2 separate regions of the Homo sapiens genome follow, and region 2 is linked to region 1. Evidence: fine-mapped expression QTL. A gene starts in region 1. The other region holds a variant in brackets. All regions are shown on one strand. Distances are from middle to middle. Region 1 holds the start of LINC02032 (long intergenic non-protein coding RNA 2032). Region 2 has its middle 41 kb from the start of LINC02032.

Region 1 (8,359 bases):
AAGCATTTGGCAGAGGCAAGCAGGTACTGGGAAAGTCCCATGGATTTCTTAGGAAGATAGTAATGATCCTGATGAGGACTTGATGTCAGGGAGGCTCACCTTTGAATGTATTTCTTGTTCAAGTTTATATTGTAGCATGCAATTTTCGTAAATAAAATGAAGGAGCAATGTAAAGAACCATGGTTAAATCATAGTGTTTCACAGATATCGCTGATAACTTGGTTAATGCACTGTTGATGTGCACGTGGTACAATTTTCATATTTTAATCTTAAGTAGAACATGAAATGACAATTATGAAAAGACAAAATAGATACCACCAACAGCTGTAATTGCTATCTAGGCTGCTCAAAGATGGGCAAAAGACACAGTAAATCAATATTAAGTTCTCCAGAAATGCAGGTATCACAAGGACATCATATAACATCATTATAAGCAAATTCTTATACAATTTGGACAGTTGTAAAGAACACAGGATTAACACAGAGAATGAGAGGATAACTTGTCCTCTGTAACTTCAGTTGCTATCTTATGGAAAAAATAAATCTCTGGGACTCATGACTATGTAACATTTAGTTAAGGCTGTAAACCTTGTTGGCTTTAATAAATGAGTACGGTTTCTTTTTTCACAATTTAATATGTAAAGATCATAAAGGGTTAAATGGTTCTGCCATGTGTAATTATAATAAGTTGAAATTTAACAGTCTTAATACACTGACTTACATGAAATGCTTTTGTATATAATAGTATATCCTAGGCCTACATTTTGTGGTGTTACAGAATACCTAATTAAACTTGTGGGTTAATAAACCAACTAAACTTAAAAAAAAACTATTAAAGATTAAAGGCATGGTATAAATATAATAAAATAATGAAAATTGAAACTGCAAACCTTCGGGATTAGAAATGAAATGGGAAAAAGGCAACTAGATAAGGAAATAAACAAGAGCTTCAAGGAAAAGATATAACAAATGCAACAAATATGTAAAAGTAGTTTGGTCATAAAATTAAACATTTGCATTTCAGGTTCTAGTTTTAGAGTGTAATCATTTAAATGGCCTAGAGAAAGTAGTTCTGATTTTATTCACATCTTTCTGGGGCTGTTAGTTTCCCTTGTGGGAAATGAAACAACACATAGCCCAAAAACTTTTCATAAATTCTTATTGATTTTTTGCACATATTCATAAGTTATTTATGTATTTATAAATATTGGAGAAATATTTCACATTTCAATTGAGCATTTTAAATTTTTAAATGAAATAAAATGTTTAGAATCTATTTATTCCCTTATCTTCTTCCTCATTCCCATAATTGAGCCTCATTGAATTGAATTCACAGGCTCTTCCACCATTACATAGAGAAGCAATATAAAAGAAACACTTTTCATCATTATTATCTAGTTTACATAAAAATGCTGTAAAAATGGAACTAAATTTGAATCAATTTGAGAATTATTTGGTATCAGAAAATAATCTATTCGTCAAAAGGTTATCAATTAGAATCAAATTTCTTTGTGTGTGTGGTAATGACAAACAAGAAAAATAAACAAAAACATATCAATTGTTTACCATGTGGTTTTGCACTTCCACAAAATTTTTATCTCTTTTGAACATTGTATTCATGTTGGCATTCGATGATAAACATACCTAAGTTACTTTGCTATTTATATAAATTAAAAAATTAAACGTCCGTGTAATATATTTTATGCACATGCGAAACATGTTTATAAGTAATCAAGTGCATGTTATTATGCATATTATGGCATATACTGCTCCATATGCCTTATCTCACATAACATGCACAAATAAGCAACTATTAGGTTGGTGCAAAAGTAATTGCGATTTTGGCAATTAAAAGTAATGGCAAAAAGTGCAATTACTTTTGCACCAATATAATAGATTTTATGACCTTGAAATACACATTTTTTTACTCACTAAATGCCACTGAAATTTTAATTTTATTCCTGCAAAGCATGAGTTTTAATAATAAATCCACTGTGTACATAAATGGGATTGTTATTCCAAATGCTCTCCATTAAACTGTACAATAGAATTGACATTATAAAATAAAATATAAAACAATTTCTCTTTGGGTACATTATATTGCTGTTGACACTTAAAACTGCATTACTTTCTGTTCTTGGTATCAGAGCAGAATATTTAAAATGAAAACTACTTTTCTTACCCTTTTACTGAAGACTCAAAAACAGAAGGCTATTACTTTCTGCAGTAATAATGATCTTCAAATTCTCTACATAAGAATGAATTAAAACCTTTACATTAACCACAAGGTGTCTCCAATCTGTAATTCTCTAGATTTTCCCTCCCCTTCATCCTCATTTTTTGGTGCAGAGTGAATATATACAATCAGATTGCCACATTTGGAAACTTCAAGAAGATTCATTCAGATGTAAATTGAAAGTGTATATTTTAGAAGGGACTTTATCAAACTGAAATATATATAATATACTATACATAAGTAACGTTATATATGTCATAGTTATATCTATTATATAATGATATATATATATCACATGCTTATAGTATAGCACATGTTTAATAAGAATTTATCAGTTATTTTATGAGTATATATTTTGGAAGTTGGCCTCTTAAAAATAGTGACACAACACCAGAAAAGAAAAAGAAAAAAAGTTTAACATCAAAGCATAGCTTGTTTTAGTTTATTCATAATCAATATTTAATTTTTGAATAATCCTATCAGCCAGCTATAACCAATTACTCCAAGAAAATAAAAATTTCATAGTGGACTATGCACATCAAATAGCCACAAATACAACTAAAATCTTGTTTTTTACCGACCAAAACTATTAGTGAGAAGTAATTACTAAAGCCAATCTCATTATGAAATATGAGTATATAACTGAATATGTAACTAAATATGAATATATAGAATAAATCTGATTTAAAAGAATTCCAACTACAGAAAGTCTAATCCAAATCCATGTATGGCTTATCTCTCTCTTTACCCAGAAAGATAACGTGTATGTGTGTGTGTGTGTGTGTGTGTGTGTGTGTACGTGTGTGTACGTGTGTGTTTAATGGGATGCTGTTTATCCCACTATATCTTACCACTCTGTCTCTTTGGATAACAATCACAGGACCCAGATGCTAAGGGTAAGTGATATTTTCCCACAAGCGGCTTCTGGCTCCTTGGCAGACGTAATAGGCAGTTGTGTTGGCAGTCGCAGTGCTGCCTCTGGCTCTCTTGTGTGGCTTTGCTGTTGAGAGGATGCTTGGCCTGCCCTGTCCTCCTGGATACCATTTCCCTCTGACAGCCCTTGGGTTTTGTGAGGCTTTATTCTGTACAAATCCCTTGTGCAGTCTCTGGATGAACTCTCTAAAGGCAAAATAGAGCCTTTCTTTCTGGTTGTGTTTAATGATCAGCTGAATTGCAGGTCCAGGTACTCAGGAAAACCAAAACCAAAACCAAAACCAAAACTTTTCCAATTTTTTCTGGCTACTTTGTTTTAATTTCTGATCTTGTTTTCACCCTGAGCACATTGTATCCCAACTTAATTGCCAGCAAGTTGGCCAAATGATTTTGTATAAATGTTGTGCTTTCAGATTTTTATGTTGTAATTTACATGATTTTTAAAAGTCCTTTGTTTTCCCATATTTACCATCATAAACAAATTTGAAGATTTATTTTAGATCATAAATAACAACATAGAATATCTCCTGCAAAAAATGTAAGAAAGGAATTTCATGATTTTACCAAGTGTGATTGGCTGATAAGCTATTTAATGAAATAAAAGTAGTATGCTTCTGAAATTGATAGAGAAGTAATACTTCATTCCTTGCATGCTTGTAATTTGGATGACATTTTGAAGCATGTGCTCAAGTTGTACAAACAAAAGCACACAGCAGAGCCAAACATGGTTTCAAAGACACCAATATAGCTAACTGTCTGCTGAGTAATTTGTGACATTTTCACACATTTCCTTTCAGTGATATCACAAAAGTAGTCACAAGTGTGTATCATGGATTAAATGATTCTCTGCCTTACTATATACCTGACCACAATCCCCAAGGCAAAACAATATTTTGGGATACTGATAGCTGTATTTTCTTTGTAAGCTGAAATATTAACAAAGACCTAGAGTTTCCTAAAAGAAATATTAGGAGCATTTTGATAAAAAGGCTCATTCCAATTAAACCTGGGTTGAAATGTATTTCTTTCCAGTCTGCCATTTTTATCTCATATGACTGTAAAATTCTAAAATTATTGATGCTGTGTTTTATAGTTTAACAAGTGAATTACTTAGCAGTCAAAAAAAGACTATACAAGTTTTATATGGGTCTTCAGATAATTATCTAAAACAGTTTCTTATTAAATAAGACTTCATGTGCTTTATGAAAAACTGGAATGTGTAGTGTCATAATATTATAAATTAAGAGCAAATGTAATTTAAAGAGGAGCTTCACTGAAGCTTCTAGGAGAAATAAAGATCATACCTCTTCTTGACAGCTGTGATTCTGTTTTTACAGACGTTGTTAATGTTGAACCCTCTCTGATGCAGAGTATGTTCTTACTGTAGCCAATGTTCTGCAAACCATGTGCTTCTAGCTCAGTGGAGAAATTAACCACATTCTAATGTGACTTCAATGTTCTATGACATGTGATAAATCCGTGTTCTGAAAGAGCATTTCTGGTTAAATTAGCATAAATCCTCAAAGATTATTGACAATTGGGTTGCTATCAAGCATATATTCTTCTTTTTTTCCTGGATTGACTTTGCTCTTTCTTAAATATAGAACATTTAATAAACATTTGTGGAAACAAAAAAATGTTAAGTAATTTTTTTACAGCATTTTGACCTTTTCATCTTCCAGTTCTAACTGGGAAATGTGGCATTTTCAGAAAAACTATTGCTAAAGCTTGGCTTCTCATTTTCTACAATATATAAAAACTCAAAAGATTGTAATTACATATTCTCTACACTATTTGGTGTTAAGTTTTACTATACTCCTCTGCTAGTAAGTTTTTTTTCTTTTTCCTTATTAAATACCTGCATTATTCTGTTTGGGTTTTCCCCCTCACTAATTAGTTTTTGGTAATGTAGAGTTGTATTTTAAAGACCTGAAAACAAATCGTAAATAAGGTACATTTATTAACAACAGAGTCCCTGGTTAAGATTCTCTAAAACAGCAGAAAGAAAGCTAAAACTATTTTTTGTTCTCTTTTTACCAGTAGGTGTCACTACTGGGACTAAAAGGTAGTGATCTCAAGCCATCTAACAGAATTTAATTTTAAGATCAAGAATTACCTGTATGATCCAAAGGTAATTTACTGAGCCATGCTAACCAAACCACCCTGTGAAAAGTTACTTGGTCAAATTTATCTCAAAATCTCAACTAAACATTTGAAATACACATTTGAAATGTGAAATGACCCTACTAACAATATGCTGGCAAGGGACCCTGAGATATCAGATATTACAGCAAAAAATAACTCATGGAATTTTTGAAAGATATAAGAGAATAAATGTAATTTGAATAGTATTTCGGTATGATCAGATTTCAAAAATATTGGATATAAAAATGTTGTAAAACAAGAGGATTAGGGTTTTGCCTTTTGAAAAGTTTCAAGATTGCATGTAGTGTTACCATAATATTCCACACTTGAACAAAGACATTTATGGAGTCAGGTTTTCTTTTTTCAAAGAGAAAAGTCCCTGAGCTTCCTTATATAGAGACATCATAAGTATCTTCATCCTAGGAAATATTAAATAACTTTCAACTTCTCGTGGAAAAATTAAATCTTTACTTTTTTTCCCCCAAAAGTGACTTCACAAAGCAGTGAAGCTATTTTCAGCCTAATTTCATGAAAATATAGTGCAATGATATTTTCAGGTTAAATATCACTTGAGGGGACTATATTTTGTTCACATTTCCTAGGAAATCTTAGCAGTAAACTTTCGCTTTTTGATTAATCAAAATATTTCATGGGCACTTTAGTTTCATCTAAAGATTTTATTTCAGTTTTTAGTTGGTTGTGGGAGATATATGGATATGTGTGTGAACAGTGTGCCTCCCCAACAAACAATGTCAAGAAATACAATTTCATATCAAAATAGTTTTAAATCTTAAACTTGAATGGGAGCGTTATGTACAAAGAAAAAAAAGATTACCTGTTATTTCTTTGTTGAATAATCTTAAAACATCTCTTTGAGTCCAAGCAGCTCATACATCAGAGCTTGAGGGTCCTTTTATTACCTGAGAATAAGCAGTTAGATATGACAGCTTCAAAAGTGTGAATGCCATTATTCAATGTTTTATACAGTATATTCATTGGTCATCCATCTGGTGTGCAACTTTCCAATAAAAAAAAGCCGAAAGTCATTCTCCTGCTTGTTTTTCCAGGGCAGTTCCGCAAGGACAACTGCACAGAGACAGATTCGCCAGTAGAGGCCTCTCTAGATTTGCCTTCTGATTACAAACTCAGAATGTGCCTTGAATCTGCTGCAGTTAACACAACTACTTGAAAAGATTCTTGTTGCATAGGGAAAAAGATCACTCTTTAATGCCCTTTTAAGTTCCATGATGTTGATTAATGTTGCCCTTTACATTAATGATGTTTCAAGTAAAAGAAAACAAATTTAAAATGGATAAATTCTATTGAGGATGCATTAATTAGACAGAGACTTTGCCATATGCTGTGGCTGGAGGGCTTGCTGGCCTTTCTCTTGTAGTTACCTGTGTAAAATCCACCCTATCCTCTACATGAATGCCCAAGCTGAATAGCCATTTGAATGAAGGCTTTAGTTTGATTCGCCATACAAGGGGTACTGTGTCACTGTGTTTTCTTTCTAGGAGTCACTAAGTGATTTCTATATCTGTTGTCATGGTGATATAGCAAAGCAGGGGAAAATGGGGGCAACTTCAGGCTTTCTCCTCACCCTCTGGACTAAGATGTTGTTAGCAAGCCTATAAAACATTGGGCTTTATCTGGGCCTTCTTTTTGTTCTCTGATTGTCAATAAAACTCATTTTAAGGGTAACAAGGACATCTAAATGTCATCTGTCACAGTGTTAGAGAGATTAAGTTTGTTTAGGGACTTGTGCTGGACAAAGGCCACTATTTGTTTCGCAGATACAAAGCAGTGTTGGCTATCACCACTCTTGATTTAGAAGGAGGCCCAGAGACCATCGAGGAAATATCATCTCAGTTGCAGGTGTCTTGACATGACAGCATTAAAAAGACAGAAAAATAGTTATGGTTTTGAATGGGAATCTGCAGTTCTGTTTCTCACACCCCTTTGTAGATTTCTCAAACCTAAAGTCTTCTCCTAGACTAGATGGAAGAATTTTGAGTTCAATTTCTGAGGGCTTCAGGCCTGTGTAAAAACATGACATACGCATGATGGTCTCTGAATGAATGATAAAAGAGAGAAAAGAGGTTTTGCAAGGAAAATCCAACAATAATGTATACTGCATTAATTCAACATTTGCTCAATAATGAGGCTAAATGGAACGTACAGATTAATGAAGACATTGGTGTTATTAAAATCAAATCCTGTGGTTCGTATGCTTTTTTTTTAATAATGAACATTGTGGCTATTGGAGAGGAAGAACAGGATTTTTTCTATTAATTTGGCACACATCCCAGATCTCATTCAACCAGAACCTATCCCCTGCAAAATGCAGCCCATGGCCTTTATGTGCCTTATTCTTTCTATTTTATATGTGTTAATTTGAGTGAAAAAATATTTTCTCTCTATAAAAATATTTCTAAAGTGAATCTGGAGCCTAAGTAATAATTCAATAACATTAAACTAGGATGCTTTTTCTAACATAAAGAGGGATTGGAAATATACAAAATTACATGCATATAATGTGGTGCTCACATCACATCTGCCTGCACTATGTAAATTGATGCAGCTTTCTTGGGACTTCTAGAATCTGAGTACATCAATGCATCTCAAATACTATATTATAGAAAATATTCATGGTAGCGAGGGCCACTATGTTGAAACATAGATGAACTATTATAAATGTTGAGCAATGGGAGAATCTTTGTTTACCTTTTATTATGTCTCTATAATTTGGATATTTATGAAATATGATGAAAACAGAGTAGTATGGTTCATTTTACTATATCCCTGTGGGCACAACCCCACATATAACACACTTATGTGTACAACAAACACATCACCTGGACCAGAGTTGACATTAGGAATGACAATGATAAACTCCCTCATGATCACGACTCTGTGGAGAAAGAAAATATACACTTATATACGCTTATATAGTAAACTTGAGTGTTCTTAATTCAAGCTCTCTCAAAGCAACTTGAAAATCTGATTTTAATCGTGCTGAAAGAGATCTGGGTGTACAGCCAT
Region 2 (8,359 bases), 40 kb before region 1:
AGATTTGTTCTGTTTCGAAGATGGACAGTAATAGTCATGGATCTATTTCTTTAGTTCTTCTTTGATTATGGATTTGACTAGGAGTTCATCTTTTCTTAACATAATTTTGGTAATTTTTTTTAAATTCATCAATTTAATCCAGGTTTGCAAATGCATTCTCAAATGATACTTTTAATGAGTTTTTGCTTCTGGGATTATATGCAATTTATTTTTCTGTTTTCAGTATAGATACTTTTCAAAGTTTTAATGCTTTATTTTGTTTTTGCATTTTCAAATTATTTTTCTGTTTCTGCATTTATCTTTTTTGAAAAAATACATATTCCCAACATTTTGTCATTGTAACATCTTTATGAGGTAGATATTTTGTTCTCTCTGCTTTGAAGATGGAGAGACTGAAGCACCATGACATTTAAGAAATTTACATGCACTTACACAGCAGTGAAGGATCCAGCCAGAATTCTATCTCATGCTCCTTTGTAGCAGAGGACCAACTTATTACCCACTGCATTGTACTGCCTCTGGCACTTCATTAGCAAAGTAACTATTTACCCAATGCACTACGAAAGATCTTCAGAAATAAATCTTGTAAATTTTTAAATAAAAATAATCATGGTAGCCCAATTACTCTTTTACATAATTATTCACCATAACTGTAGTGGAAGTTTGACTATCTTCTCCCTGCTCAGCATCCAAATCCCAACCCCTGCCTCATTCTATTAGACCTTAATTAATCCGTTTTGTAGTCAGTAGAGAAAGTGTTCTGACTCCTACTATGGAAAAAGAATGAGCCAGATTCTTCCACTTCCTAGTATAGCACAACTGGTAGAATGAGAGGTCACTTTGACCTTAGCAGGTCGAATAATAAGGTGCTTTCAGGATTCAGAGGCAGTTTGAGGTTAGAGTCACTGTAGAAGCCTCAGAGACACATGGACTAGATACTCCCTTGAATGGGTCTTGCTGCCCATTCATTCAAGCAAACTTGAGCTAATTTTTTTCTTTGTCATAGAGTTTTATTTCTTTCATTTTACTTTTTAAAAAATTGTGTAATTAAATAATGTATGCACACAATGGAAAAAATCAAATAGATCTTCAAGGATTATCAAGAAAAACAGTACTCCCTTGTTTCACCCACTTCCCTACCTCATTTGAGGTGATGCTTTTCAAAAGGCAGTTGGTTTCAACATTTTAGCTGTTTCTCTTGGGACTTTTACTCATATTTCTAAATAGCATACTTATACCCTCATTTTTTGAATTTTTGTTTTCATACATTAACTCTTGTCTTCCTATTACAAAAGTTGCCTTAAAAATGTTGCTACCTCCCACCTACATGCACCAACATCCTTGCCAACACGACCATATTTTGCTCCCCACAACACATGTATTCACACATATATACAAATCTTTTTTTCATCTTCTCAATATATAAATGTAATCTAATTTTATATTAAACCAATACTTTGTGGTTAAATATTACATTGACTATGTAAACATCACAACACTATCCTTCATTTCTTACACAATTTTTGGTCTTTCCTGGATATAATTGTTTTTCTTTCCATTTGCTTAATTTTCTATGAAATTATAACTAATTTATTCACAAACCCTCCTCTGATATGAAATCTCCTCTCTATACATTTAATCATACTTCTAATGAGTCACTATCATATTTTCTTTGAATACAGATTTCCTGGACATGTAAGTCCCCCTGATCCAATGTGAAGTGGTTGCCCTCTGTATTAAATGGCTGTTCAATGGCATACCCCATATGGTTTTCCAAGCTTTTCTTCTGATTTTTTCTTGAGTTGGAGATCCGTTTTCTATCTCCTTTGTCTTCTCACTTCTTGGTTGATTCTCTCCAGGACATTATCAAAAAAAAAGGAAGTTGAGAAGCTACTATGTTGACTATCTGAAAGTGTTTTCATCATCGTCATCATCATCATCATCATCATCACTTGTTTAAAAGTTTGAGTATATACATTTCCATATTCCTTAGAATTTGGAGGGCTTTAAATTATGCTTTTCGAAAGTTTGATGCCATTCTAATTTCTCTTTGCATGAGATCTGATTGTTCCTATTCAAAAAATTTTAACTCTTTATTCTGTTTTTGGTGTTCTAAAGTTTAATAATTTGCCTTGCTGGGGAGCTTTTCAAATCCATTTCGATGATGTCTTTTCAGAGGCTGTCAGGTTGGAAACTTGTGTTTAGATAAGGGAAGTTTTCTTGTATTATTTCTTAAATATTTTTCTCTTTTTATTTTTTCTTTTTGTCTTACCTGGTTGCTTACTATTCAGATGTTTATACTTTATCAACTGATCCTGTAATATTCTTCTATTTTCTGCTTAGTTTTTTTTATTTGTAGAAGGTTTTCTCAAATTTATCTTCTAAACTTTCTATAGGAAGTTTTTTTTTCCGCTATCATAGTTTTATTTAATAAGAGCTTTTGTTTGGCTCTTTTAATATTTTATGAAGACATCTTTGTTGAAAATCAATTGACTGTAAATTTATGGATTTATTTTTGGGCTCTCTGTTCTGTTCTATTGGTCTATGTGTCTGTTTCTATGCCAGAATCATACTGTTTTGATTACTGTAGGCCTACATTAGATTTTAAAATTAGGTAATGTGATGGCTCTGGCTTTGTTCTTTTTGCTCAAGATTGCTTTCATTATTTGGGTTTTTTGTAGCTCCATATGAATTTTAGGATTGCTTATTCTATTTTGGTAAAAAATGACATATGTATTTTGATGAGATTGCATTGAATCTGTAGATTGTTTTGGATGGTGTGGACATTATAATAATATTAATTATTCCAATTTATGTTACAGAATATCTTCCCATTTATTTGTGTTTTCTTCAATTTTTTCATCATTGTGTTATGGTTTTCTATGCACAGGTATTTTAACTCCTTGATTTCCTCCTATTTTATTTTTTGTGTTGCTAAAAAATATGAAGAATGAATAAGATGTACTATTTGATAGCACAGTAGGGTGACTATAGTCAATAATAATTGTATATTTTAAAATAACTTTAAGAATATAGTCAGATTATTTGTAACTCAAAACATAAATGCTTGAGGGGATGAATACCCATTCTCCATGGTGTGCTTATTTCACATTGCATGTCTGTATCAAAACATCTCATGTACCCCATAAATATATATATATATATATAACATGTACACACAAAATTTTTAAAAAACAATAATTTTTAAAAAAACATGGGATTGTTTTCTCAGTTTCTTTTTTGGATTTTTTTTGTTAGTGTATAGAAATGCTATGGATTTTTCTATGTTGATTTTGATTTCTGCAATTTTACTGAATTTATTTGTTATATCCAAGAGTTTTTTTGGCAGAGTTTTAGAGTTTTCTCTATATAAGATCGTGTTGTGAGCAAACAGCAGTAATGTTACTTTTTCCTTTCCTATTTGGATGCCTTTTATTTTATTTTGCCTAATTTCTAAATTAAAATTTA[G/A]TAATTACTTACAAATTAAAATTTGAAATTAATTACAAATTAAAATTTGCCTAATTACTAAAATAATTTTTTTTTTGCCTAAGTGTTCTTGTTCAAAAAATTTTAACTCTTCGTTCTGTTTTTGGTGTTCTAAAATTTAATAATTTGCCTTGGTGAGGAGCTTTTCAAATCCATTTTGATGAGGTCTTCTTGAGCCTGACAACTTGGAAACTTGTATTTGGACTTCTAGTACTATGTTGAAAAGAAGTGGCAAAAGTGAGCATCCTTGTTTTGTTTCTTATCTTACGGGAAAAAAGCTTTCCACTTTTCATCATTAAGTTTGATGTTAGCTATAGGCTCATCATACATGACCTTTGTTTTGTTAAGAGATTTTATTGTTAAATAATGTTGAATTTTGTTGAATGTAGTGTCTGCATCTACTGAAATGATCATATGACTTTTATTCTTCATTCTGCTCTTGTGGTGTATTGCAATTGTTGATTTATATATATTGAATCATCCTTGCATCCAAGGGATAGATCCTTCTTAATCATGATGAATGATCCTTTCAATGTGCTGTTGAATTCAGTTTGCTAATATTATGTTGAAGATTTTTTTAGTTTATATTTATCAGGGGTATTGGCTTGTAATTATCTTTTCTTGTAGTGTCTTTGTCTGGCTTTGGTATCAGGGTAATAGTGGCTTCATATAATAAGTTTAGAAGTTTTCCCATCTCTTCAATTTTTTTGCAAGAGTTTGAGAAGAATTCTTTTTTATTGTTTAGTAGAATTCAGCTTTCTTCTTTTTGTGAGATAGGCATGTATTGCTGTAAACTTCCTTCTTAGAACTGCTTTTCCTGTATCTTGTTTTGGTATGTTATGTTTCTATTTTTGTTTTTCTCAAAAGACAGTTTTAAGCTTTCTCTTTTAATTTCATCTTTTGCCTATTGATTATTTAGAAGCATGTTGTTTAATTTTCTCATTTTTATAATTTTTTTGAGGTCCCTTCTATTATTGATTTCTTGTTTCATTCTATTTAGTGTGGTTGGGAAAGATACTTGACATGATTTCAACGTACTTAAATTTGTGAGGACTTGTTTTGTGGCCTGCGTTGTCTATCCTGGAGAATGTTACATGTGTGCTTGAGAAGAATGTGTAGTTTTTTGCTGTTTGGTATCATGTTTTATACATGTTTGAGAGGTCCATTTATTCCCATTGCAGTTAAAGAACAATGGTTCCTTATCAATTTTATTGATTTTCTTTCTAAACAATCTGTCCGCTGTTGAAAGTGGGGTATTGAGGTCCCCTATTATTATTGTATTTCATTCTATCTCTCTTCAGATGTATTGATATGTGCTTTATATATTTAGGTATTCTGATGTTAGGTACATATGTGTTTATAATTGTTGTATCTTCTTGACAAATTGTTTCCACATCATTATATAACCTTCTTTGTCTCATCTTACAGTTTTTGACTTGGTAGCATTTTTAGAGTTTTCTCTATTTCTTATTTTCATTTTCTCTCTGTAAGATTTATTTCTCTATATAAATTATATTTTGTCTGGAATATGTATAGCTACCCCTTCTCTCTTTTGATTCCATTTGCATAGAATATCTTCTTTCCTCTTATCATTTTCATATGTGTTTTTAAAGACAAAGTGAGTTTCTCATAGGCAGCATATATTGGGTGCCTTCAGCCATTCTGTGACTTTTGATAGAAGGATTTAATACATTTACATTCAAGGTACTTATTGATAGATAAAGACTTACTACTGCCACTTTGTTCATTGTTTTCCAGTTGTTTTGTGGATTTAGTTTCTTTCCTCCTCTCTTGTCTTCCTTTTTGATTAGATGATTTTCTCTAGTGGTATGCATTAATTCCTCATTTTTTATCTTTTACATATCTACTATAAGTTTTTGCCTTGTGGTTACCATGAGGCTTACATAAAAATATCTTATATTTGTAACAGGCTATTTTAAGTTGATAAAAAATTTACCTTTGCACAAAAAACACTATAGACTTTTACTCTACATACATCACAATTTCATGTTTTTGATGTCACAATATACTTTTTTATATTGTATACCATTAACAAGTGAATATGGCTATATTATTTTAAGAGTTTTGTCTTTTAACCTTCATACAAAAGATATAGTGATTTACATACTATTATTACAATTTTAGAGTATTCTGAATTTGATTGTGTACTTACTTTTGCCAGTGACTTTTATACTTTCATATGTGTTCATGTTACTAACTGTCATCATTTTCTCTCAGCTTGAAGAACTCTCTTTAGCATTTCTTGTAAGATAGGTCTGGTGGTCCCACAGCATTCTTTTGTGTGGGGGAAAGTCTTTATTACTCCTTCAGTTTTGAAGAACAGCTTTGCCAAGTATTCCTGGTATCCAAGTGGTTTTGTTTTTGTTTTGTTTTTTTCCTTTAGCCCTTCGAACACATGATCCCACTCTCTTCTGGTGTATAAAGTTTCTGCTGAGAATTCTGTTGCGAGCCTTGGAATTCCCTAAATATGATTTGCTTTTTTTCTCTTGCTAATTCCAAGATCTTTGCTTTATCCTTGATATTTGAAACTTTGGTTATAATATGTCTTGGTATCATCTTGTTTGGATTAAATCTTATTTGACCTTCCTGTACCTAAATATTTCCCTAGATTAGAAAGTTTTCTGCTATTATTCTTTTAAGTAAGCTTCCTACCCTTTTGTCTCTCTTCTTCTTCATCTCTTATTACTAGAATATTTGCTCTGTTGATGCTGTCCCATAAATCCTGTAAGTTTTCTTTATTCTTTTGTATTATTTTTTCTCCTCTCACTGTATATTTTCAAATAACTTGCCCTCAAGTCCAGAAATTCTTTCCTCTGATTTATTAATTCTTCTGTTGATGCTCTCTATTGCATTTTTAAATTCCATTTATTTTATTTTTCTGTTCCAGAATTTCTGTTTGATGTTTATAAAACAATTTCAATTTATTTGTTAATTTTTCAGGTTGGGTTTTTATTTTTTTAATTTTATTAAATTGTTTATTTGTATTTTCTTGAAGTTCATTGAGCTCCTTTGAACAATTATTTGGAATTCTTAGTTGGTTCACTTACCTCCATTTCTGTGGGGTCAGCTATTGGAAGATTATGGTGTTCTTCTGATGGTAATTATCTCCTTGGTTTTTCATGTTTCTTGTTGCCTTATGTTGATGTCTGCACATTTGGTAGAGTACTCTTCTCTTGTAGACTTTAATGACTAGTTTTTTTGTGGAAATATCCTTGTCTCTGGGTGGAGGATGAGCATACTTGCTGGATAAGGTACAGCAGTTCTGATACCACTGAGAGTGCCAGCTGTGTAGTCCCTGTGAAGCTTCGTCAGTATTAATAAAGATTGCAGAGATCCTCAGCAGCTAACATTGTCTATGGTGGCAGTGACACTTTCTCTTCTATCCTTTCTAAAATTAATGGATATGTTGATCATTTCTAATTTAGTGTTATTATAAACACTGCTGTTATAAATATACCTGCCTGTGTTTTTTTGTGTGCATATGTGCATAGGCACTTGTTTCTGCTGATTATATACCTACAAGTGAAATGGCTGAGTTATAGGTTAGGTATGTGCTTAAATTTTAAGATTGTATTAATTTACATTCTAACCATTAATGTATGAAATTTCCAGTGTGTCACATCCTCATAACATTTGGTATCATCATATTTTATCTTAGCTATTCTGATAGTTTATTGTGGCTTTTGCCTAGTTTTCACATATATTGATTCTTCAGCATCTCTAATTTAAAAGATACATTAAAAGCTATTTGTGGCACCCACATATTTTTTTGAAGTAAACAAAAAGCACTTGCCCATATAATTTTTCAATCTATAGAAGAGTTTTCTCCTCTTTTCTTGAAAAACCAAGGATTCTGTGAAGCTGTTTCAGGACAAGAGAAAAAGAAGAAAAAAAGAAAAAAGAGCTGGATCTGACCCCTCAGCCCTTCCTCAATCAGATGAGCTCTGGTTGTATATTGACTTTCTAAAATACAATCTTGCAGAAAAAGTTTCTCTGCTAAAAAATTTTAAAGCTACACAACCATTCTTCAAAGAATTAATGGCAATGAAACTGAAGAAATATACATTTTCCTTGACCCATGGCCTTTTTGCGGAGGCTATTTGCAATCCTATGAGTTCATGGCTATTATTTTCACTGGCATCTGATCTTGCAAGGGATGGGGGCAGCCAGAAGGGTAAGACAAAGCCTGATAAAGACTCAATAACCAGCATCTTTAGAAACCTTACTTTTACCCAACAGTCACCTAGCCACACAAACATACTTCACCACAATTTTTAAGTGTGGCTGAACCTAATCAAAAGTAGTAGTAGTATCATATTCAAGCATGACTTCATATACCGCTAAGAGCTCTAATAGGGTAAATATAAATAAAGGTGTCCAAAATCATATTGGGCCAGCTAATCAACGTTTCAATCTGCTTTCTTCAACATAAGTATATACTGCTACTTCAGGAGGTAATCAAGAGGATTAAAGGAGATGATGCATATAAAGGACCCCAAATATAATTTGTTCAAAAAATGTTGTGATTTATTCTATTATGACCACGATTATCCGGCAGAGTGACTACATATACTGGTCTTTGATCTATCTGATTCCCAGTCCCAGTGATCTATATCCTATGGGACATCAAAAGCTTCATATATCTTTTCCCTATTTTTACTAGTTCCTCAAAAGTGTCAGTCCTCTAGTTCCTAATCATCTACAACACCGTTTTCTCCCAGATGCTGTATTTACCCTCAAAGTAAAGTATCCCTCCTTCTCCCCAAGTCATAAATCCTTCCATGATACCCTCTGTAAATATTGTATCACATTTAGCAAATTTTTTATTATCTTCAATGCCTTATAGAAATAT

The links.
Region 2: its variant is fine-mapped to the expression of LINC02032 in cerebellar hemisphere (GTEx, PIP 0.93).

The regions. Positions count from the first base shown.
Region 1 is chr3:148,074,372-148,082,730 of GRCh38, reverse strand. LINC02032 (long intergenic non-protein coding RNA 2032) reads right to left here and starts at 4,572. Exons shown (of 2, transcript NR_134937.1): 1 at 4,474-4,572.
Region 2 is chr3:148,114,551-148,122,909 of GRCh38, reverse strand. No RefSeq gene overlaps it. Among named protein-coding and RNA genes, the nearest start is that of LINC02032, 41 kb to the right of the region's middle. The variant G/A (reference allele first, on the strand shown) is at 3,469.